Homo sapiens: one gene and its partners. The main gene of each other region encodes a partner of the protein of the gene in region 4 in a complex. Each region holds a gene or a part of one and is shown on either strand. Other genes may lie near its edges.

Evidence for each region.
Region 1: WASHC5 (region 4) and WASHC4 share a complex: the UniProt entries of both Homo sapiens proteins name them as parts of the WASH core complex.
Region 2: WASHC5 (region 4) and WASHC3 share a complex: the UniProt entries of both Homo sapiens proteins name them as parts of the WASH core complex.
Region 3: WASHC5 (region 4) and WASHC1 share a complex: the UniProt entries of both Homo sapiens proteins name them as parts of the WASH core complex.

The regions. Positions count from the first base shown.
Region 1 is NC_000012.12:105,166,731-105,169,668, forward strand, and holds the end of WASHC4 (WASH complex subunit 4), read left to right. Parts: intron 1-133; coding exon 134-201; 3' UTR 202-2,400; downstream 2,401-2,938. UniProt on the Homo sapiens protein: Acts as a component of the WASH core complex that functions as a nucleation-promoting factor (NPF) at the surface of endosomes, where it recruits and activates the Arp2/3 complex to induce actin polymerization, playing a key role in the fission of tubules that serve as transport intermediates during endosome sorting.
Region 2 is NC_000012.12:102,051,967-102,059,004, reverse strand, and holds part of WASHC3 (WASH complex subunit 3), read left to right. Parts: intron 1-7,038. UniProt on the Homo sapiens protein: Acts as a component of the WASH core complex that functions as a nucleation-promoting factor (NPF) at the surface of endosomes, where it recruits and activates the Arp2/3 complex to induce actin polymerization, playing a key role in the fission of tubules that serve as transport intermediates during endosome sorting.
Region 3 is NC_000009.12:26,439-34,279, forward strand, and holds the start of WASHC1 (WASH complex subunit 1), read right to left. Parts: upstream 3,019-7,841; 5' UTR 2,911-3,018; coding exon of another isoform or gene 2,874-2,910; intron 2,796-2,873; exon of another isoform or gene 1,218-2,795; coding exon of another isoform or gene 1,216-1,217; exon of another isoform or gene 1-1,215. UniProt on the Homo sapiens protein: Acts as a component of the WASH core complex that functions as a nucleation-promoting factor (NPF) at the surface of endosomes, where it recruits and activates the Arp2/3 complex to induce actin polymerization, playing a key role in the fission of tubules that serve as transport intermediates during endosome sorting.
Region 4 is NC_000008.11:125,025,791-125,032,828, reverse strand, and holds part of WASHC5 (WASH complex subunit 5), read left to right. Parts: intron 1-434; coding exon 435-588; intron 589-4,121; coding exon 4,122-4,209; intron 4,210-7,038. UniProt on the Homo sapiens protein: Acts as a component of the WASH core complex that functions as a nucleation-promoting factor (NPF) at the surface of endosomes, where it recruits and activates the Arp2/3 complex to induce actin polymerization, playing a key role in the fission of tubules that serve as transport intermediates during endosome sorting.

The DNA of each region.
Region 1 (2,938 bases), on a different chromosome or scaffold from region 4:
AGAGAAACATTTGATGGATGCAACTGTAATTTGAAGTTTGGCAATACAGCTCTTCTCAAATTTCTTTTACTTCTTAATTTATTGTTTAAAAATGAACATAAATATCCATTATTATTTTCACTCATGCTTTCAGAAGAAACTAAAACAAGCAATGGAGACCTGTCTGACAGCACTGTGTCTGCTGATCCTGTTGTGAAATGATACGGATGGTATTCACTGCACATATGATGAAATCATCAGAATTGTTAAAACTTTTGCCAGTGGAATGGATAAACTATTGATGAATTGTTTCCTGGGTCACATCTCTGGAAAATAGATGTTACAGTTCTTAAAGGCAGTGCTTTAAAGTGAAGTTCATTCTGTTTCCAAAGGCTCTACTTTCAAAGGTTAAGAATGAGATTTTAAAATTGGATTTTTGCCTGGACTTGAGGGTACAAGATGTTTCTATTTGAAGTGAAGTTATAAAAGGGCAAATCCAGATTCATAAACTATCACCTCGGATTTCTTGTAATCTACATGTTTGTAATTTGTATTTGCATAGATCTTTGATCTATAGTTATTTCAAGTCATGGGAAATTCAATGCATATACTATATACAGCCAGTAAATACATGCTTAACAAAAGGAATGAGCCTGAAGTTCATAAAGAATACATATCAATATTCTTATAAAAGGAATATATGAAGATGGCTTTGATACTAGAGGTGAGGCACAAGTGTTTTATGTACTCTCAGTGTACAGTATAACTGATGATCCTTCTTTCATTGTTAATTTCATGTGACTCACAAGAGCTGCTGATGTCTTTGATGAGACATTTTATAACTAGTTTACATTGCTTTGAGAACATTTAACCTCCAACAGCTGCTTTAAATTTAAGATTTACTTAATACTCAGAAAATTCAGATAAAGCCATAGAGTCCTGTTTGAAGCTTCACTTCTATTTTGGTTGAAGGCATGATGTATGATGTCAGAAAAAAAATTGAATGAATTATTTCTACATCCAAACTCAGGTTTCTTCTACATTAGATTGAATTGAAATTTTGGTGATGGTTTGGGTAGACTTTTTTTTTATATCAAGTATAATTTAAAACATCAGATTAAATAATTACACTGTTCAGGCTTTTAAAAAAATACCACTGTGAGAATAAAGCGCTAGCAAGATACATCACTTACTGATTTTAAAAATACAGAAAGATTTTGAGTAAATTTTGTGCCCAGCAAGCTGTTAGTTTTATTTTTGTAAAGGTATGTAAGTTATTAAATGGTTAATCATGGCCTTTTAAAAATAAAATAAAGTGATACCTTTACAATGAAGACAAAAGTTTAAAACTTTCTAATACAAACACCATTTTGGGAAATGCTTGATTTTTTTCTATTGCATTTGTCTGCTAAACATTTCTTTGGATAAATCCTGCAAATACTTCTAACATTATTCTTTGATTCCAGCTTTTAGAATGGGTGTACAATGCCCTGTTTGTACTTACTGGTTAGGGTCAGGGTAACTTGCCAGCCCAAGATAAATACTTTAATTGTTAAAAGTCAGAAGAGACAGAATATGTAGGAAATGTTTTTTGTTTATTATGTAAACATGGCTTACAGAATTATGAACAGTGGATAGATTAAAGGCATTTAATATTTGTAATTCATAATAACTGTAGAAATGGCCCTAAAGCATGCTGCATAATTAATAATTTATATTTTCATTATTATAAGTGTTTATATTAATGATCTTGCATTTGATTATATCAAATTCGTCATTTCATAGCAACAGTATTGTTTTCTCTGTTTTTCTTCTCTAACTTCTCTGAAATCATCTCCTATTAAGGGATAGAAATTGTTACTAGAAGAGAATCACATGTTCTGTGTTCATTATCCCTACACATGTAAATTAATTATTTTATCAATACTAGATAGAGTTCACATGCTGACTCCCTGGATACCTACAGTTGAGAAGAAAATGACAGACAATTATTTTTCCTTTAGGTCAAAATAATGTCACTGCTATCTGGATAAATTATAAGTTCATATATTTGAAATAAGATCCTGGAAACGAATTTAAATGGTGTCAAACTGCAGAGCAACAGGGCTTCAGTATATTCACATCTAATAGGTTAATATGTACATTTGGATGATGATTTTTCTTGATAACATTAACATTAATTTTATTTTTTCAGACATACTGTAATTTAAAAATTAATGTGAGCGTTTGTTTTAAGTTCACAGAAAACTTAATAATTCAAATTCTCAGGAATTAAGGACTCACCATAACATTGTCAGTTCTAATGAAATTTTGTAAAAGATGGCAAGTTTGTTACCTCACTTGAGTGGGGTTTTCCTTTTCCCCCAATTCTAAGAGAATATAATGTGTATACTAAAACATTAATAAACATAATTTTGAAAATTTCCTTCCCCTGGATGTTTATGTTCAAAATTGAATGTCGTAAACCAGTAGTTCTTAATATTAACCTTTTTGGGGTCCCCCTTAATTGAATGAAATGAAATCTGTGGAATCATTTTTTTATAAAATGCATGCACATAGGTAAAAATTTGAAGTTTAAAATTGGCTCCTGTCAATGTATTCCAGGTGAAAGAAAGGTGTTTTCTTTCCTTTATACATCCTTGATCTTTCCAGAGCTTTTTTCCAATAAAAAGAACCAATATGAAGTTACTTTAAATCCTAATCCTGGAAAGGGATTATCAGTATGCATTGTTTAATGTTAGTAATAACTATAGTGCTATTTGCAAACCTGAGTTGAACTAAAACAATACAGTAGTCTCCCCTTATCCGTGTTTTACTTTCCAGTTTCAGTTACCTGTGGTCAGCTGTGGTCTGAAAATATTACATGGAAAATTCCAGAAACAATAAGTTTCAACTTGTGTGTTATTCTGGGTAGCATGATGAAATCTTGTGCTGTCATGCTGCATCCCGCCTGGGACGT
Region 2 (7,038 bases), on a different chromosome or scaffold from region 4:
AGTTGTACTTTTTTATCCTCCATATATAAGTGAGATCATTCAGTATCTGTCTCTGTTTGACTGGCTTATTTCATTTAACACAATGTCTTCCAGTTCATTTATGTTGTCACAAATGACAGGATTTCATTCTTTTTTAAGGCTAAATAGTATTCCATTGTGTATATATACCACTTTTTTTAATCCATTCATCCATTGATGGACACTTTTGATTCCGTATCTTGGCTATTGTGAATAATGTTGCAGTGAACTTTCAAGTACAGATGTCTCTTGAATGTACTAATTTTACATCCTTTGGATATATACCCAGAAGTGGGATTGCTGGATCATATAGTAGTTCTATTTTTAATTTTTTGTGGAACCTCTGTACTATTTTCTATAATAGCTGTACTAATTTACATTCCCACCAACAGTGTACAGAGGTTCCCTTCATCACATATATGGTTTCCAAATATAGTCTCCCATTCCATAGGTTCTCTTCACTCTATTGATGGTTTCGTTGGCTGTGCAAAAGCTTCGTAGTCTTTTAAAATAATTTTTAAAAAATAATTTAAAATCCAGATTCTACAAACTTCTTAGTGTGATGTAATCCCATTTATTTATTTTTGGTTTTGTTACCAGTGCTTTGGGGTTTATATCCAAAAAAAGTCATTGCCCAGACCAATGTCGTGCAACTTTCCCCTTATGTTTTCTTCTAGTAGTTTTACAGTTTCAGGTCTTACATTTAAATCTTGAATCCTTTTCGTGTTAAATTTTTTTATATGGTAAAGGATGAGGGTCTAATTTCATTCTGCATGTGGATATCCAGTTGTCCCAAAATGATTTATTGAGACTGTTATTCTTAACATCTGTGAAAAGTATGTTTCTGTAACTGTCTTTTCTGTGTTCTTAACATCTTTCTCAAAAATCAATTGACTTTAAATGCATGGATTTATTTCTGGGCTCTTTATTCTGTTTCCTTGGTCTATGGCTGTTTTGATTACTGTAGCTTTGTGGTAGATTTTCAAATCAGAGAGTGTGATCTCTCTGGCTTTGTTTTTTTGGCTTAATATTGCATTGCCTGTTCAGGGTCTTTTGTGGTTCAGTATGAATTTTAGGATTTTTTTTTCTATTACTGTGAAAATATTATTGGAAAATTGATAGGGATTGCATTGAGTCTGTAGATTGCTTTGAGTGGTGTCAACCTTGTAACAACATTCATGTTTCCAATCCATGAACACACGTTATCTTTCCATTTATTTGTGTCTTCTTCAATTTTTTTCATCAATGTGTTATAGTTTTCAGTGTACAGATCTTTCACCTCACTGGTTAAATTTACCCCTATGTATTTTTTTTGTAGCTATTGTAAATGAGATTTTTTTTCTTTTTTTTCAGATAGTTTACTTTTAGTGTATAGAAATGCTACTGATTTTTGTATGTTGATTTTATATCCTGCAGCTTTACCAAAGTAGTTTGTTAGTTCTAACAATTTTTTGGTGGAATTTTTTATAAGATTTTCAATATATAAGAGCATGCCATCTGCGAACAGAAACAATTTCATTTCCTTTTTTCCAATTTCAATGCCTTTTATTTTTCCCTCTTGTCTAATTACTATAGCTAGGACTTCTAGTACTATGTTGAATAGAAGGGGTAAGAGTGAATATCCTTGTCTTGTCCCTCATCTTAGAGGAAAAACTTTCAGTTTTCACCATTGCGTATGATGCTAGCTGTGGGCTTGTCATAAATGGCCTTCATTGTGTTGAGCTAGATTCTTTCTATACCTAATTTGTTGAGAGTTTTTATCATCAAAGGATGTTGAATTTTGTCAAATGCCTTTGTTCCATCTATTGAGATGATCATACGGTTTTTGTCTTTCATTCTGTTAATGTGATGTATCACCTTTACTGATTTGCATATGTTGAACCATCCTTGTATCCCAGGGATAAATCTGACTTGATCCTGGTGAATGACCTTTTTAATGCGCTGTTGTATTCAGCTTGCCAGTATTTTGTAGAGGATTTTTGCTTCTATGTTCACTGGGGATATTGACCTTTGATTTTCTTTTCTTGTAGTGGATTTGTCTGGCTTTGGAATCAGGATAATGCTGGCCTCCTAAATTGAGTTCGAAAGTTTCCCCTCCTCTTCAGTATTTTGGAAGAGTTTGAGAAGGATTTGTATTAGTTCTTCTTTAAATGTTTGGTAGAATTCAGTAGTGAAGGCATCAAGTCCTGGGGGTTTTGTTTAGTGGGAGACTTAACTACTGATTTGATCTCTCTACTTATTATTGGTCTGTTCAGATTACCTATTTCTTTATGATTTAGTCTTGATAGGTTGTATGTGTCTAGGAACTTATCCATTCTAGGTTATCCAATCTGTTGGCATATAATTGGTCATAGCAATCTCTTATGAGCCTTCATATTTCTTTTGTTTTAATTGTAAAGTCATGTTTATTGGAGTATGAACTTATATGCAGTAAAATTTACCATTAAGTATGAGATTGGACAAATGCATAATCATACCATAATCAAGATGTAGAATAGTTGTAGAACAAGATATAGAATCACTCCAAAAATTCCCTCATGCTCCTTTGCAGTCACCCCTTTTTTATCCCTAGGAATGCATTGTTCTGTTTTCTGTCAAAAGGGCCAAATTTAATCACTGCAATGGTCTCCAGTACTGTGGAAAAATTCCTGAGCATACAAAACACACAAACCAAGTTTTTAAAAAATGAGATACTTTTAAAAATGTCTTTAGCATATCAACCAAATGAAGGTAGCTTCATATTTTACTACAGATGCTCAGATATCTTAGGCAGAATTAAGTCCACCATTGCCATATATATGCCTCAACAGTAATATTTAAGAGTAGACTGTAAAAATAAACTTACAATCTTTAGAATCGTCAAAACAATGGGATTATTAAATGACCTTTGTAAGTTAAAGCAAAGTTTATAAAGTTGTCTTACATAGTTGTGAAATAGCTAGTCTAGTTAGATAGAATTAACGTCTCCTAAAACTGACCTGCTTGAAGAACTACTGTAGGTCATGTCTTTGTAGGTAGAGTATGTGAACGAAGATTAAGTACTTGCTCTTTTGTGTTAACACTGTGTCAAGTTTCAGACTGGGGCTGGTTGATAGAAAAACTAGTTAAAAAAAACTATTTTAAATAATGGAATTGAATTTTATGGAAATTCTCTGTGGCACCAACTCAACCACAGGACAGAAACAAAAAATTCTCATCTAAACATTCCTGTAGAAAATTGGGACCATCTAAAAATTCACCCCAGCTACCACCATGAAAGAAACAAAGAAAGCAAAAACTTCTGTTCTGAATATATCAGTGGTCCCATATTCAGATACTTCTTATCTACTTGAAAAGCTTTGATGGGTGGGGCACGGTGGCCCACACCTGTAATCCCAGCACTTTGGGCCCAGGTGGGCAGATCACCTGAGGCTAAGAGTTCGAGACCAGCCTGGCCAACATGGTGGAATGCTGTCTCTACTAAAAATACAAAAATTAACTGGGCGTGGTGGTGCACACCTGTATTCCCACCTACTTGGGAGGCTGAGGCAGGAGAATCACTTGAACCTGGGAGGTGGAGGTTGCAGTGAGCCAAGATTGCGCCATTGCACTCCAGCCTGGGTGACAGAGCAAGACTCCATCTCAAAAAAACAAAACAAAAGAAAAAAGAAAAGCTTCGCTGATTCTTTCAAACACACATCAGACCTTAAGTTCATTAGCATTTATAACGTCACTGAGCTGCATTGAGCTCTGTGGCTGAAAAAGCCAATTCTTTGTATTTCTGTGGTATCAGTTGTAACATCTCTTTCGTTTCTGATATTATTTGAATCTTCTCCTTTTCTTAATCTAGCTAAAAGTTTGTGGATTTTGTTTTTCTTTTCAAAAATCCAGCTCTTAGTTTCATTGATCTTTTCTATTGTTTTTCTAGTCTCTTTCATTTTTTTCTGTTCCGATCATTATTATTTTTTTCCTTCTACTAACTTTGGGTTTTATTTGTTCTTCTATTCCTTCAGTTGTAACACTAGGATGTTACACTTTGGATCTTTCATCTTTTTTGTTATAGGTCTTTACTGCCGAAGCTTCCTTTCCTCTTAAAACTGCTTTTGCCACCTCCCATAAGTATTGATGTGTTGTATGTCCATTTTCATTTGTCTCAAAATACTTTTAATTTCGTTTTTAATTTACTTGACCTATTGGTTGTTTAGGAGCATGTTATTTAATTTCCAGTTATTTATGATTTTTTTCAAGATTCCTTCTATTATTGATTTCTGGTTTCAAACCAATATGGTCAGAAAAGATACTTGATACGATTTCAGTCTCCTTAAATGTATTAAAATTTGTTTTGTGGCATATCATATAACCTGGAGAATGTTTTGTGTGCCCTTGAGAAGAATGTGTATTCTGTTGCTGTTTTATTGAATTTTCTACATATGTCTGTTAGGGCCAGTGTTTCATTATTGATTTTCTGCCTGGATGATATGTCCATGGTGTTTGTAGAGACGGCGTCTCACCATGTTGCCCAGGCTAGTCTCAAACTCCTGAGTTCAGGGGATCCTCCCGCCTTGGCATCCCAAAGTGCTGGGATTACAAATGTGAGCCACTGTGCTGAGCTCTTTTCCATTCTTTCACTTCAATCTATGTGTGTCCATTTTTTAAAGGTGAAGTGAGTCTCTTGTACACAGCAGGTAGTTGGGTCTTATTTTTGTATCTATTCAGTCAATCTGTGTCTTTTGATCAGAGAATTTAGTCCATTTACATTCAGGGTAATTATTGATAGATAAGGACTTACTGCTGCGATTTTGTTCATTGTTTTCTAGTTGCTTTATAGATCTTTTGTTCCTTTCTTCCACTCTTGCTGTCTTTTGTGATTAGATGATTGTCTCTAGTGATATACTTTGATTCCTTACTTTTCATCTTTTGTGTATTTACTATTAGGTTTTTGCTTTGTTGTTCCCATGAGGCTGACATAAAACATGTTATAACAGGCTATTTTAAACTGATAATAACATAATTGATAACATAAAAAACCTCTGCACTTTTACTCCACCTCTCCACATTTTGCTTTTGATTTTGCAACGTATATCTTTTTATACTGCATATCCCTTAACAAGTTATTGTAGCTATTATTATTTTTAATAGTTTTGTCTGTTAACTTTCATACTAAAGATATAAGTGATTTAATCACCATGACAGTATTAGAATATTCTGAATTTGACTGTATACATTTTTTTTTCAGCTCTAAAATTTCTGTTTGATTTTTTAAATAATAATTCCAATCTTTCTGTTACATTTCTCATTTTGGTCATTTATTATTTTCTTGATTTCATTGAATTGTTTCTCTGAATTTTCCTGAAGTCCACTGAGTTTCCCTAAAACAATAATTTTGGATTCGTTGTGAAGAAGGGTCAGTTACTGGTGATTTGTTTCTTTAGTAGTGACGTGTTTCTCTGATTATTCTTGGTCTTTGTGGCCATGTGTTGGTATGTGTGTGTTTGAAGAAGTAAGGACTTACTCCAGTCTTTGCAGACTGGCTTTGTCTGGGAAAGCCCTTCACCAGTAAGCTCATCCAGAGGTTCTAGACAGGCCATCTGTTGTGGTGCATGGCAGGCTTGCTGCTGGAGTCCTTGGGTAGGCTGGCCTGGTGCCTAGGTTCGTAGGGTTGTTCCTGGAGCCTGATCCACTGGGGTGGACCTGCTGATTAGCTCTATAGGGGTGGGCCTGGATCCTTAGGGTTCCAACTTGAAGCCTAAGTCTGCAGGGGTTGGTCTGGCACTGGGGTGAGCCTTGAGCCTGAGTCTGCAGTGTCTGGCCAGGTTCCAAGGTGGGCCTGGTGCTTGGAACCCCTGGGGTGGACCTGGAGCCAGAGTATGTGGGGGTGGGCCTGGGTCCTGGTTGTACTGTGACTAGCCTGGAGCCTGAGTCTGCAGGAGTGGTCCTGCAGCCTCCGTCCATGGGGGCCAATCTGGCAATGCAATCTACTGGGGTGGTCCCAGACTCTGGGTCTGCTGGAACATACCTAGACCCTGACTCACCACAGGGATTTGTCTGGGGCCAGCTTGGTGCTGGGGCAAGTGTGCAGCCTGGGGTCACAGGGGCCAGACTGGAGCCTGAGATTATAGGTGCTGGCCTGGTAACTTGGGCTACATGGGGCTGGCCTGGGTCCTACGGCAATAGTGGCTAGCCTGGAACTTGAGTCCACAGGGATGGTCCTGGAGCCTGTGTTTATGGGTGTCAGCCCAACAGAAGGGCCTACTGGGATGGGCCTAAACCCTACTTCCACTAGGGTATGGGCTGCAGGAGCCAGACTGGGGCCACAGGAGCTGACTTGGCACTGGTCAGGCCTGGAACCTATATCTGCAGGAGCTGACCTGGTGCTGGGGTGGGCCTGAACCTTGGGCCCATGGAGGCTAGCCCTGTGCTGGGATTGGTCCAGAACCTAGGGCCACTGGGGCTGGCCTGTCCCTAGAGCAGACCTGGAGACAATCTATGCAGTCTTGCCTGGTGCTGGGACTGTCCTGAGCCTTGAGCTGGTCTGGAACCTACGGTCCCAGTGGGACAAGCCTAGAACTCAGGACTGGGTGATCCAGCCTAGTGCCAGGATGGGCCTAAAGGCTTCGCCTGCAGGTGTCAGCCTGGAGTCTGGGCTGAGGGGGCTTGCTCAGCACTGAGTTCTGCTGGGGTGGGCCTGGTGTTGTGGTCCAAGGCAAAGTCCTGTGCTCACTGCCTCTCCTTCGCCCACCTGGAGGGTATCTCTCTCCATGCTGTGCTGCCTGGAGTTGGGGGAAGGGTGACATGAGTTCTGTAAAACTGTCCTTCTTACCCTCTTCAGTGTGTTTTTTCTTACTTTTGTGCTAAACCCAGTGCTGTAATTTCTCACCTGGTCTCCTTAGCTCTTGAGAATGTATTTTCGTGCGTGAATAGTTTTTCAAATGGATGTTTCTGTGGGAGGATCAGTGCTGGAAAGTCCTATTCCCCCATCTTGCTGTTGTCCCACCTTTTTCTCCTTTATGTATGATAATCTAGGGTTGACTGTAACTGATT
Region 3 (7,841 bases), on a different chromosome or scaffold from region 4:
TATACTGATGCAAGTTTGCTGGCTGTCCTAACTTATTTCTGTGCCTCAGTTCTCCCATATGTAAGATCACAAAGGGGGTAAAGATGCAAGATATTTCCTGTGCACATCTTCAGATGAATTTCTTGTTAGTGTGTGTGTGTTTGCTCACACATATGCGTGAAAGAAGAGTACATACACAGATCTCCTCAAAAAGGAGGCAGCAAGCCCGTTCAAGAATGGGACTGAATACACCTGATGAGTGGTTTACTTTCTGTCTGCAAACATCTACTGATCATCTGTTAGGTGCAGGCCATGATCACAACAAAGACGAATAAGACACTACACTAGCCAGGGAGAGTCTCAAAAACAACTAAACTCAAATTAAATTCATTCTACTCCAGTCATGGGTACAAAGCTAAGGAGTGACAAATCCCTCTTGGAGTTAGGGGAGTCAGGAAAAAGCTCTTAGCAGAATGTGTGCCTCTCGGCCGGGCGCAGCGGCTCACGCCTGTAATCCCAGCACTTTGGGAGGCGAAGGCAGGCAGATCACCTGAGGTCGGGAGTTCGAGACCAGTCTGACCAACATGGTGAAACTCCATCTCTACTAAAAATACAAAATTAGCCAGGCGTGGTGGTGCAGGCCTGTAATCCCCGCTACTCGGGAGGCTGAGGAAGGAGAATCACTTGAACCGGGAAGGTGGAGGTTGCAGTGTGCCAAGATCGCGCCATGGCACTCCAGCCTAGGCAACGAGGGTGAACCAGGTCCAGGAAGAAGGTGCAAAGACAGCATTCCAGGTAAAAGAAACAGCTTGAACAAAAAGTGTGTAGGGGAACCGCAAGCGGTCTTGAGTGCTGAGGGTACAATCATCCTTGGGGAAGTACTAGAAGAAAGAATGATAAACAGAGGCCAGTTTGTTAAAAACACTCAAAATTAAAGCTAGGAGTTTGGACTTGTGGCAGGAATGAAATCCTTAGACCTGTGCTGTCCAATATGGTAGCCACCAGGCACATGCAGCCACTGAGCACTTGAAATGTGGATAGTCTGAATTGAGATGTGCCATAAGTGTAAAATATGCACCAAATTTCAAAGGCTAGAAAAAAAGAATGTAAAATATCTTATTATTTTATATTGATTACATGCTAAAATAACCATATTTGGGATATACTGGATTTTAAAAATATATCACTAATTTCATCTGTTTCTTTTTACTTTTAGAAATCACATATGTGACTTAAATATTTCTTTTCTTTTTCTTTCCTCTCACTCAGCGTCCTGTGATTCCAAAGAAATGAGTCTCTGCTGTTTTTGGGCAGCAGATATCCTAGAATGGACTCTGACCTAAGCATCAAAATTAATCATCATAACGTTATCATTTTATGGCCCCTTCTTCCTATATCTGGTAGCTTTTAAATGATGACCATGTAGATAATCTTTATTGTCCCTCTTTCAGCAGACGGTATTTTCTTATGCTACAGTATGACTGCTAATAATACCTACACATGTTAGAACCATTCTGACTCCTCAAGAATCTCATTTAACTCTTATTATCAGTGAATTTATCATCATCCCCTATTTTACATAAGGAAATGGGGTTAGAAAGACCAAATAACATTTTTTCAACATCAAAACACTAGCTTGAGATCAAGCCCAGACTTGGATCTGTCGTCTGAATTCCAAGCTTTTTGTTATTTATTGATATGTTTTGTTGTTTTCATGCAATAATGCAAATATTAGCCCAAACATTTTGTTAGTAGTACCAACTGTAAGTCACCTTATCTTCATACTTTGTCTTTATGTAAACCTAAATTAGATCTGTTTTTGATACTGAGGGAAAAACAAGGGAATCTAACACTAACCAGCCCGTAGTGTGTGGTCAACACTTTCGTTACTTTAGTATACATCACCCCAATTGTTTGTCTTCACCACACACTTTGGAGTTAGGTAGTAGTATCTATTTTTACAAATAAGAAAACCCAGGCACAAAGGGGTTGATTAGCAATTATCTTTTGAAAAGCCTGTAGTTGCTCATCTGAAGAAGTGACGGACCACCTCTTATTTAGTGGACAGACAGTAACTAGTTGAGAAGACAGGGGATTTTGTTGGCGGAAAAAAAATTTTATCAAAAGTCGTCTTCTATCAGGGAGTTTTATGAGAAACCCTAGCTCCTCAGTTCCACAGTGGGTAACTGTAATTCATTCTAGGTCTGCGATATTTCCTGCCTATCCATTTTGTTAACTCTTCAATGCATTCCACAAATACCTAAGTATTCTTTAATAATGGTGGGTTTTTTTTTTTTTTTGCATCTATGAAGTTTTTTCAAATTCTTTTTAAGTGACAAAACTTGTACATGTGTATCGCTCAATATTTCTAGTCGACAGCACTGCTTTCGAGAATGTAAACCGTGCACTCCCAGGAAAATGCAGACACAGCACGCCTCTTTGGGACCGCGGTTTATACTTTCGAAGTGCTCGGAGCCCTTCCTCCAGACCGTTCTCCCACACCCCGCTCCAGGGTCTCTCCCGGAGTTACAAGCCTCGCTGTAGGCCCCGGGAACCCAAAGCGGTGTCAGAGAAGTGGGGTCCCCTACGAGGGACCAGGAGCTCCGGGCGGGCAGCAGCTGCGGAAGAGCCGCGCGAGGCTTCCCAGAACCCGGCAGGGGCGGGAAGACGCAGGAGTGGGGAGGCGGAACCGGGACCCCGCAGAGCCCGGGTCCCTGCGCCCCACAAGCCTTGGCTTCCCTGCTAGGGCCGGGCAAGGCCGGGTGCAGGGCGCGGCTCCAGGGAGGAAGCTCCGGGGCGAGCCCAAGACGCCTCCCCGAGCGCGGCTCCAGGACCCCGTCGACCCGGAGCGCTGTCCTGTCGGGCCGAGTCGCGGGCCTGGGCACGGAACTCACGCTCACTCCGAGCTCCCGACGTGCACACGGCTCCCATCCGTTGTCTTCCGAGCGTCAGGCCGCCCCTACCCGTGCTTTCTGCTCTGCAGACCCTCTTCCTAGACCTCCGTCCTTTGTCCCATCGCTGCCTTCCCCTCAAGCTCAGGGCCAAGCTGTCCGCCAACCTCGGCTCCTCCGGGCAGCCCTCGCCCGGGGTGCGCCCCGGGGCAGGACCCCCAGCCCACGCCCAGGGCCCGCCCCTGCCCTCCAGCCCTACGCCTTGACCCGCTTTCCTGCGTCTCTCAGCCTACCTGACCTTGTCTTTACCTCTGTGGGCAGCTCCCTTGTGATCTGCTTAGTTCCCACCCCCCTTTAAGAATTCAATAGAGAAGCCAGACGCAAAACTACAGATATCGTATGAGTCCAGTTTTGTGAAGTGCCTAGAATAGTCAAAATTCACAGAGACAGAAGCAGTGGTCGCCAGGAATGGGGAAGCAAGGCGGAGTTGGGCAGCTCGTGTTCAATGGGTAGAGTTTCAGGCTGGGGTGATGGAAGGGTGCTGGAAATGAGTGGTAGTGATGGCGGCACAACGGTGTGAATCTACTTAATCCCACTGAACTGTATGCTGAAAAATGGTTTAGACGGTGAATTTTAGGTTATGTATGTTTTACCACAATTTTTAAAAAGCTAGTGAAAAGCTGGTAAAAAGAAAGAAAAGAGGCTTTTTTAAAAAGTTAAATATATAAAAAGAGCATCATCAGTCCAAAGTCCAGCAGTTGTCCCTCCTGGAATCCGTTGGCTTGCCTCCGGCATTTTTGGCCCTTGCCTTTTAGGGTTGCCAGATTAAAAGACAGGATGCCCAGCTAGTTTGAATTTTAGATAAACAACGAATAATTTCGTAGCATAAATATGTCCCAAGCTTAGTTTGGGACATACTTATGCTAAAAAACATTATTGGTTGTTTATCTGAGATTCAGAATTAAGCATTTTATATTTTATTTGCTGCCTCTGGCCACCCTACTCTCTTCCTAACACTCTCTCCCTCTCCCAGTTTTGTCCGCCTTCCCTGCCTCCTCTTCTGGGGGAGTTAGATCGAGTTGTAACAAGAACATGCCACTGTCTCGCTGGCTGCAGCGTGTGGTCCCCTTACCAGAGGTAAAGAAGAGATGGATCTCCACTCATGTTGTAGACAGAATGTTTATGTCCTCTCCAAATGCTTATGTTGAAACCCTAACCCCTAATGTGATGGTATGTGGAGATGGGCCTTTGGTAGGTAATTACGGTTAGATGAGGTCATGGGGTGGGGCCCTCATTATAGATCTGGTAAGAAAAGAGAGCATTGTCTCTGTGTCTCCCTCTCTCTCTCTCTCTCTCTCTCTCTCTCATTTCTCTCTATCTCATTTCTCTCTCTCTCTCTATCTCATTTTTCTCTCTCTCTCTTTCTCTCCTCTGTCTTTTCCCACCAAGTGAGGATGCGAAGAGAAGGTGGCTGTCTGCAAACCAGGAAGAGAGCCCTCACCAGGAACCTGTCCAGCTGCCACCTTGAACTTGGACTTCCAAGCCTCCAGAACTGTGAGGGATAAATGTATGATTTTAAAGTCGCCCAGTGTGTGGTATTTTGTTTTGACTAATACAACCTGAAAACATTTTCCCCTCACTCCACCTGAGCAATATCTGAGTGGCTTAAGGTACTCAGGACACAACAAAGGAGAAATGTCCCATGCACAACGTGCACCCATGCCTGGGTAAAGCAGCCTGGCACAGAGGGAAGCACACAGGCTCAGGGATCTGCTATTCATTCTTTGTGTGACCCTGGGCAAGCCATGAATGGAGCTTCAGTCACCCCATTTGTAATGGGATTTAATTGTGCTTGCCCTGCCTCCTTTTGAGGGCTGTAGAGAAAAGATGTCAAAGTATTTTGTAATCTGGCTGGGCGTGGTGGCTCATGCCTGTAATCCTAGCACTTTGGTAGGCTGACGCGAGAGGACTGCTTGAGCCCAAGAGTTTGAGATCAGCCTGGGCAATATTGTGAGATTCCATCTCTACAAAAATAAAATAAAATAGCCAGTCATGGTGTCACACACCTGTAGTCCCAGCTACATGGGAGGCTGAGGCGGGAGGATCACTTGAGCTTGGGAGATCGAGGCTGCAGTGAGCTATGATTGTACCACTGCACTCCAGGCTGGGCGACAGAGAGAGACCCTGTCTCAGAAAAAAAAAAAAAAGTACTTTGTAATCTGTAAGGTTTATTTCAACACACACAAAAAAAGTGTATATGCTCCACGATGCCTGTGAATATACACACACACCACATCATATACCAAGCCTGGCTGTGTCTTCTCACAAATGCACTGCTAGGCACCACCCCCAGTTCTAGAATCACACCAGCCAGTTCACCCTCCAGATGGTTCACCCTCAACTTCATAAAAGTTCCCTACCTAATCTACTGACAGGCTCATCCCCGACCTAATTTTAAAGATTTCCTAGGAGCTGCAATGGGAATCCTGGACCTCAGCCTGGACAAAGAACAGCTGCAGGTCATTCTCATGTGTGGACACAGAAGCTCTGCCTGCCTTTGCTGGCCAGCTGGGCTGAGCGGGCCTGGGAATTAAGGCTGCAGGGTTGGTCCCAGGCAGTCTTGCTGAAGCTTGCCACATCCCCCAGCCTCCTGGATTTGCCAGGATCCAAGAGCATGGACTTTAGGAATTCCTGGTGGAGGAGTGAAGAAAATGTGACAGGGTGTCCTAAGCCCCGATCTACAGGAAGAAAACTGGAAATAAGACTGAGGACTTAGTTTAAGATGTTCCTACTCAGCCTCTAGCTTTTGTGCTACAGTTCTGGGAACAGACTCCTCTCTCCTGAAAACCACTTCCCTCCGCAGCATTAAATTTCACCAAGATGTCTTGCTTGTGGGAAAGACTTCCAAGGATGCCTGGAGAGAGGAGGATGGAAATGTCCTGCTCTCTAAACAGATAGACAGATGCAGCCAGACAGAAAATAGTTTATCTTGCTGAGGTTTCTAATGTATTTGAAAGAGGCCTGGGTCTAGAAGTCTACCCAGAGGGCTCTGTGTTGTGCACGCAAAGATAAGAACCTTCCCTGTGGGAGTTCCAGAGCCAATTTTCCTAAACACCCATCGGTGACTGTGTTCAGAGTGAGTTCACACCATCCTGACCTGCCCTGAGTTAGACCTTACATGGTCTTCCTCCTCTAGGAAGCCTCTGCAGCCCAGGAACCTCCCCTTATCGGAAATGAACAGCATTTGAAGCTTCACCCGACAGACCAGACAGCTTAGCCCTCGTGTTGTGCCATGTGGGTTGTTCTCTGAGAGGCAGGAGAGCATAGTGGTTACTAGGAAGGGAAGGACTTTGGGACTAGACTGCCTCGGCTGGAGTCCTCTTTCTGCTTCATAGCCACGTGATCCTAGGCATGTTACCTGTGCCTCAGTTTTCACTCTGTCAATATGTAATAACTGAATCTGTCTTTGTGGTGAGGATTCAGTGAGTTAACATATTTGAAGTGCTTAAAAATGAGGCTTGTGTCCATAGATTAATGAGTGAATACACAAATGGTGATATGGACATACAGTGGAGTATTAGTCATAAAAAGGAAGGCAGAGCTGATCCATGGCACCATGTGACAGAACCTCAAAAGCATTAGGTTAAGTGGAAGAAGCCAGACACAGGTCACCTATTGTGTAATTCCATTTATAGGAAATATACAGAATATGTAAATCCGTGGAGAAAGAAAGCCGATTTCCAGGGGCTAAGGGGAGGGGAGAATGGGAAGTGGCTGCTTCATGGGTACAAGGTTTCATTTTGAGCTGATGAAAATGTTTTGGAACTACATAGAGATAGTGTTGGCACAACATGGTGAATGTACTGAATGCCACTGATTGTTCACTTTAAAATGGCCAAACTTATATGAATTTCACCTCCATTAAAAAAAAAAAAAAAGGACCAGATGTGGTTGCTCACACCCATAATCCCAACACTTTGGAAAAAGGTGAAAGTTTTTTTTTCTTTTTTTTTTTTATATACTTAAGTTCTAGGGTACATGTGCATAATGTGCAGGTTGGATACATAGATATGCGTGTGCCATGTTGGTTTGCTGCACCCATCAACTTGTCATTTACATTAGGTATTTCTTCTAATGCTATCCCTCCCCCAGCCCCCCACCCACTGACAGGCCCCAGTGTATGATGTTCTCTGCCCCATGTCCAAGCGTTCTCATTGTTCAATTCCCACCTGTGAGTGAGAACATGCAGTGTTTGGTTTTCTGTCTTTGTGATAGTTTGCTCAGAATGATGGTTTCCAGCTTCATCCATGTCCCTGCAAAGGACATGAACTCATCCTTTTTAATGGCTGCATAGTATCCCATGGTATATATGTGCCACATTCTCTTAATCCAGTCTGTCATTGATGGACATTTGGGTTGGTTCAAAGTCTTTGCTATTGTGAATACTGCCACAATAAACATACATGTGCATGTGTCTTTATAGTAGCACGATTTATAATCCTTTGGGTATATACCCTAAGACCTGGGACGCATTTAAAGCAGTGTGTAAAGAGACATTTATAGCACTAAATGCCCACAAGAGACCTCTGCCTGAGAACGTGGGTTTCAGCCTAAGAGTTGTAATATGTGTGCCCATTCACAGGTGCTGCATCAGAGTCCCAGGTGGGAAGAAGGCAAGCATACACAAAAATGGTAAAAGGCAGAAAGGAGCCCAGTCTCGTTCTTTTTAAGAAGTTTTCCTAAGAATCTCCACCCAGCGACTTGCTCTCACATCTTCTTGGCCAGCACTGGACCACACAACTCCTTCTAGATACAGAGGAGTCCTAGGATTCTATGAGAAAGAAGGGGAGGGTGGGCAAAGGGCAGCCAGCTGTGCAGCATCTGCTGGAGACACCTAACCCTTGGTGGAGGGGTTGTGGTGCTGGGAGAAGGCTTTCTGGACGGTGTGACAGCAGAGATAAACTTAAAGGC
Region 4 (7,038 bases):
TCAACATTTGTTTAAAGATACCCTAAAAGTATTTTATCCAGCTTTTCACTTAAGATAGTAGTTCAGGGTATCTAGTATGTCATGCTGCCGTTAACAGAAGTCAGTTGTAGTGATTTTTTTTCTCATTTACATTTATCTGTATCTTTAAAAATTGCTACAATAATATATGTTAATTGAGTAATTCAAAAGAACCAGTAATGATAATTACAAAATTTAGTAACCGTTTTATTGGTTTTGAATCCTTCAGACCCCTGGAATGCCCTACCAATCCTGTGGCTAATTCAAAATATGGCCCAGAATTGTCATTCCCTCCAAAATATCATCTGCCAGCGAGAATATGGGCCCCAAACATTTTGACCTTCACAGCGTTGGTATTTAATGAATGTTGCTGAAGGCAAGTACTTCATATGGTGTTGCAACTTGTTCCCTTGCAGGAATGGTCTGCCGAAAACCGACCGACCCGGTTGATTGGCCACCACTTGTCCTGGGACTGCTCACTCTGCTGAAGCAGTTCCATTCCCGGTACACCGAGCAGTTCCTGGCGCTGATTGGCCAGTTTATCTGCTCCACGGTGGAGCAGTGTACAAGGTACAGAAGACCAACCAGGACTACGTGGGACTTCTTGTCACAAAACCTAACTTAAACCTCACATTACCAAATTCCTCTTATCGCCCTAATAGAGATGGGAAATGGTTGCTCACCCTTCTCTGTAAAGCAAGTCAGGGCATACCTCCTTGTTTAGAGCAATTACAGGTGTGTCCATCCTTAGTCACCCTGCCAGGGGAACTCCATCCGGTCTACTCACATTGATTTTCCAGGAGTGACTCAGGACCATGAATAGTAACTACCATGGGGAAGAAAGTGCAGCCCTGTTCCTCTGCACTCTTGGATGCAGCTCTTCAATCTCAGCGAGCCCCTGCACTCCTGCTGGGCCACTGCCAAGAGATGATTCCACTCACTTCAGTGGGAGTCAGAGAACATATCAGTGTGTCAAAGCCTGGGCAGTGTCTGCATGTAGAGAAGCAAATTTCACAAGAGTTGCTATTTGATACAATGCTTATAAAACTTTAATTCCTGCCAGTTCTTTTCCCCTGCCCCTAAATGTGGCTTTTCTGGGATAAAGAAAAAAAAGTTATTTCCATGAGATGCTGGGTCCTGTGCCTCCTTCTCTGCTATCCTAAAGGGTCAGCCTGGCTACATAACCTTTGCTGTCATGTTTGCTTGGTCATTTTTGCCACTATAATGTAAAAAACGAATCAAAGCGGCTGGGCACAGTGGCTCAAGCCTGTAATCCCAACACTTTGGGTAGATTACTTGAGGTCAGGAGTTCAGGACCAGCCTGGCCAACATGGTGAAACCCCATCTCTACTAAAAAAACACAAAAATTAACCACATGTAGTGGTGGCCACCTGTAATCCCAGCTACTCAGGAGGCTGAGGCAGGAGGATTGCTTGAACCCAGGAGGCCTCAGAGGTGCAGTGAGCTGAGATCATGCCACTGCACTCCAGCCTGGGTGACAGAGCGAGACTCCATCTCAAAAAAAATAAAACGAACCAAAGTGATCTTCTAAGTCCACACAAAATACTACTAAGTCCTAAAACTGGAAATGATTTTCGAGGTCATTTAATTGACCTCCCACTAAGTGCATGAATGAGCTCTAGGACATCCTTGACAGGTAGTCATGCAGCCACTGCTGGAACACTCTCACCGAGGGGGCTTGTGCTACCTCTCCAGGCAGCACAGTCCACTGGCTAAGTCTTGTTCTCATTAGAAAGTTCCTGATTGTGATTATTAGAACCTGTGTCTCTGGATGTTTCACTCGCTGAGCTTTTTCCTACCTTTTGAAATCATACAGAATAATGCAGTCTCCCTCCTTTGCAACATCACTTCCGATTTTGTATGCCATCTGTTGTCTTAGGTCTTCTCAATGTTTAGATAAGCCCCTTCCACCTGTTCCCGATGTCTTGCAGTTTAGAGGCTGCTCACCATAGTGAGTGACTTTTTCTGGGTGTTCCAGTCTGTTTTTGACCATCTTAAAATGTGGCTTCCCAAACTTGTATTGAGATTCCAAGCACAGCCCTCCCCTTGGCACAGAGGAGTATTACACGTCTTCATTCTGGGCCCTCTGTGGACAGTACAGCAGCTACAATTGCAGTGATGAGTCCTTTTTTTTTTTTTTTTTTTTTTTTTTATGAGAAAGAGTCGCTCTGTCGCCCAGGTTGGAGTGCAGTGGCGTGATCTCGGCTTTGCAGTGATGGGTTTCTTGACATCCAGTGCATACCAGTGGCTCCTACTGATTTTGCATTCTTTCTAAACCCCAATGTCGTTATTTCCCGTGAGCTGCAGTCAGGCCAGCTCCTCCTCCTCTTAGTTAATGAATCGAACAACAAACACTGGTGTTTTCCTGGGATAGATGTTAAGACTTGCTTCAGAAACAAGATTTTTTAACAATTGAAAAATAGAGGAGAACTCAAAGTCTCAAAAATGAAATTGTAACAATCACGAAGTGAGGTCAGTTGGCAAGGAAAGCAGTAGGCTCATAAAAACCCAGCGCCTCTGGCCCAGGCTCCCAGAGAGGAGGGGAAGGACTCCAGTTCAGGTGGTGCGGAGGTGATTAGCAAGTAACCTCCACACAACTGGCTGTCCCAATTGTAGCTCCCTAGCTGTCAACTTGGACAGGTTCTTCTTCCTCTCTTTCTTTTTCACTAATGGCAGTAAAGGCTTAAGTGTGGCTCTAGTCCAGCATGTTATTGGCAACCCTGAGGGTGGTGATCAGGCTACAGGAGACCAGCTGTAAGTCAGGCTTTCTGATTCAGCAGAGCAAAGGAATCTAAGGAACCTGTGACGCATGGGAATTCCTTCCTTTCTCTTGCTCCAAGCAGAGCAAATATAGCCCTGGTCACAGATTGAAAGATTGAGAGCAGGGAGAATTTTTCCAGGTACAGTCATTCTTAACCCATTCAAAAAGCAAAGTTCATCAGCGAAATTAACCAGTAATGTATTAATAGTACTAAAAGTTATTTGTTAATCAGAAAATGCCAATTGGTACAGGAATTGGAAATCGTTTTAACACCTAAAAACTCCTTTTGATGTAAACAAGAAGGAACGTTAGCTCTATAAGGAGCCTGGCATGTACTTTGCTGTATTCCCAGCTCTGGAACAGTGCTTGGCACTGTAGTTGCTGAATGAATGAATACATGAGTAAAATCCCATATGAAAAATTGCTAGATGCTGTATTTATTTGATACCGTCAAATATGCAGTACATGCCAAGCACATTTCCAGATGCTGGAGAAACAAAGATGAACATATGACCTAGGCCCTCGAGGAGTTTATACTCCTGATGGGAACCCAGCACACCATTGAAAAATTAAGAGGCTTGGAGAATGCTGCTAACTATTATGACAGCCCAGGAGAATCAGGGAGGATTCCACAGGAGAAGTACCCAAGCTGAGACTCGAACAATGTCTAGAAGTTTACTTTCAAATCAGTGTGCAGGCCAGGTGCGGTGGCTCACGCCTGTAATCCCAACACTTTGGGAGGCCAGGGCGGGTGGATCACCTGAGGTCAGGAGTTCAAGACCAGCCTGGCCAACATGGTGAAACCCCGTCTCTACTAAAAATACAAAAAATTAGCCAGGCATGCTGGCGTGCATCTGTAATCCCAGCCAGTCGGGAGGCTGAGGCTGGAGAATCACTTGAACCCGGGAGGCGGAGGTTGCAGTGAGCCGAGATCATACCACTGCACTCCAGCCTGGCTACAAGAGTGAAAAGTCTGTCGCAAAAAAAAAAAAAAAAAAGTGTGCAGGGATGGGAAAGTATGGGACCTGCTAGGTATTGAATCATGTAAACAGAGGGAGATGAGTCTGGATAGATAGCAGGGATCGTGTTGTAAACGCCCATGGAAACCGTATAGAGAAGCTCACATTTACCCTATGGGGTGGGCTCCTGAAAATACATGAGCAAGGTAACAACTTGACAGGAATTAAGAGCATGCTCAATGTTTTTGTTCATCTTTGACTTCATTAGGTAATCTGTTGGTAATTTAGTCTTTCAGGATTCTGACCAAAAGGGCTTATGATGTGCAAAGCAGTTAATTGATCTAAACTGTTCTCTATCACAGCCAGAAGATACCTGAAATTCCTGCAGATGTTGTGGGTGCCCTTCTGTTCCTGGAGGATTATGTTCGGTACACAAAGCTACCCAGGAGGGTAAGTGATAGATAGTAAAGAACAATATTAATAGTTGTAAAAAGATGCTAATAATAGTGGCCCTGGATTCATCAGGAGTGAAGCCCAATAGGTCGTTCACAGTAGATGCCTCTGCGCCTCTCGCCACTGCTCTACCCCCAGCTCTGAAATGTCCTTGCCTTTTCCACCATGGGAATTGCCTTGCAGAGTTTAACACAATGCCCCTCCCGCCTCTTCTTCCTCTCCACCATGTACTCCTGTCAGCAACTCATCTGGTTCAGGAGTTAAGTGAAATAGGCAAGCCAGGAGGGATTCCTTAAGTGGCCAGAGGAAAGAAATAATCATGGTGGTTTGTTCTTTCTCTCTCCACTGACCTGGTTCCCACAGCAAGCACAGTTAAGTTCATGCCACAACTAAATGTATATATGAGCACTGTTTCCAAAAATGGCAGACTACTTTTTACCTGCCAAGACATTCTTTCCTATCCCTTTCTCATTAGTAATTCCACTTTGTTAAATTTTAGCTCAAAGTGGAGAGCTTGATACTGAAAAATACAACTTTCAGCAGATACTGAAAATCATTTGATTTTTAGAAATTAGTAGGTTAGGAATCAAAGATACTTTCTTACAACATGAGCCAAAGATGAACTTTTAAAATTAACTAGCAATGTCAGTACATAATAGTGAAATGTTAGTGGCATTCCCATTAAAGCCAGGACTGTCACAGTGTCATGACAACTATACAGACTCTTGCAACTACTTTTGTTATACAGGTGCAAGACAATAAGAAATGAAATGAAAATAAAATGCATATTGGAAAGAAGACAAACTCTGTATTATTTGAGATTAATTGTCTTCCTTTTTTATTCTATTTTTCCATAAGTTATTGGGATACAGGTGGTATTTGGTTACATGAGTAAGTTCTTTAGTGGTGATTTGTGAGATTTTGATGCACCCATCACCTGAGCAGTATACACTGCACCATATTTGTAGTATTTTATCCTCACTCCCCTCCCATTCTTCCCTCCAAGTCCCCAAAGTCCATTGTATAATTCTTATGCCTTTGCGTCCTCATAGCTTAGCTCCCACATATCAGTAGGAATATACGATGTTTGGTTTTCCATTCCTGAGTTACTTCACTTGTAAGAATAATCTCCAGTCTCATCCGGGTCACTGCAAATGCTGTTAATTCATTCTTTTTTATGGCTGCGTAGCATTCCATCGTATGTATATATCACAATTTCTTTATCCACTCATTGATTGATGGACACTTAGGTTGGTTCCACGATTTTGCAATTGTAAATTGTACTGCTGTAAACATGCATGTGCAGGTATCTTTTTTGAATAATGACTTCTTTTCCTCTGGGTAGTTACCCAGTAGTGGGATTGCTGCATAACTGTCTTCCTTGAATACCCAATAGAATCATGTGAAAAACTATCAAAATAATACAGAGATCAGAAAACAAGCTGGCTACAGAATAAATGTATGAAATACATCAATCGATTAAAAAATACAGTGTGAAAAAGGACCTATTCACAGAAATAACAAGGCAATGATATAGCTAAGAATAACCTCTATAAGAAATATGAAAGAACACTTTATTAAAAAACTATAAAAATTTTAAATATAAAATTTGAAAGTCCATGTTTCTGAATGAGGGTCCTCGAATATTACAGAGATAATAGTTCTATCTAGTTTATAGGTTTACTGCAGTTACAATCAAGATTTCAGGTACTTTTTTAACTTCAAAGAATATATTTTTTAAAATGTCATAGGACTTAGGCAAGTCCTTTTTTAAAAAAAAGATATTAAAATATTATATCAAGTATTAAAACACTGTAAAACTGTAGAAACCAAAATAGGGTGCTACTGGTATGCAACTAAATAGAAGGAACAATGAGCAAGAATATGTAGCCTAGAAACACACCCTGTGCATACAATGGTACATAAGGAAAAGTAGCATCTCAAATTAAGAGAGAAAGGGAATATTAGTCAATAGATGTAAGTTCACACAGTTAAAAAAATAGCAACTTAGTCCCCTTTACATCTCCTATGTTATCAAAATTAATTACAGATAAAGGGTTAGTGTGAAATATGAAACAAATAAATTAGCCGAAATTTTAGGCAAATATGTATCAGCTCTCAGAAATTCCTAAGTATAAAACCAAAAGAAGAAACTATAAAGAAAAAGATTTAGAGACTTGATTTTTTATAAATGCTGAATGTAATTAATTCTGTGTCAGTGTCTCAGTTAAAAAACAAAAGACAAAAGAGGAAATACCAACAAAGGACTAGTTTCTTGATTTATAGTGTGCTCTTCAAATCTTCAAGTTCAGTATGAAAAAGATGTCCAAGCCAATAGAAAAAAAGCAGGGGAAGGGCAAAGGAAATTAAGAGGCAGTTTTCAAGAAAATAGAAATGACAAACCTTCGGATTCAAGGGACAAAAATCCAAATACGAAAATTACTGTTTCCACTTATCAGGTTGGTGAAAGGTAAAATGTTGGGCCCCCATTATTCGGAAGCATTTGGAGAAATGGGACTTGTAAGTGCTATTAATTGGAATGTAAATTGACAGCCTTTGAGGAGGGCAATTTAGCTTTATCTATTTTAAAAAAACATTTGTAATATACTTACCCTGATCCCAGCAATTCCACTGCTAGGAATTTTACCTGCTGGATATATGTGCAAAGGTTTACCAAGATATGTGCCCAAGGATGTTCATAATATAAGATTTAGCAGAGGTAGAGAAGGACACAATATTATGTGATCCTAATTTTGATTGTGTGTGTGTGTGTGTGTGTGTGTCTGTCTGCATATGTAAGTAAACTGGAAAAATTCATTACAAAAG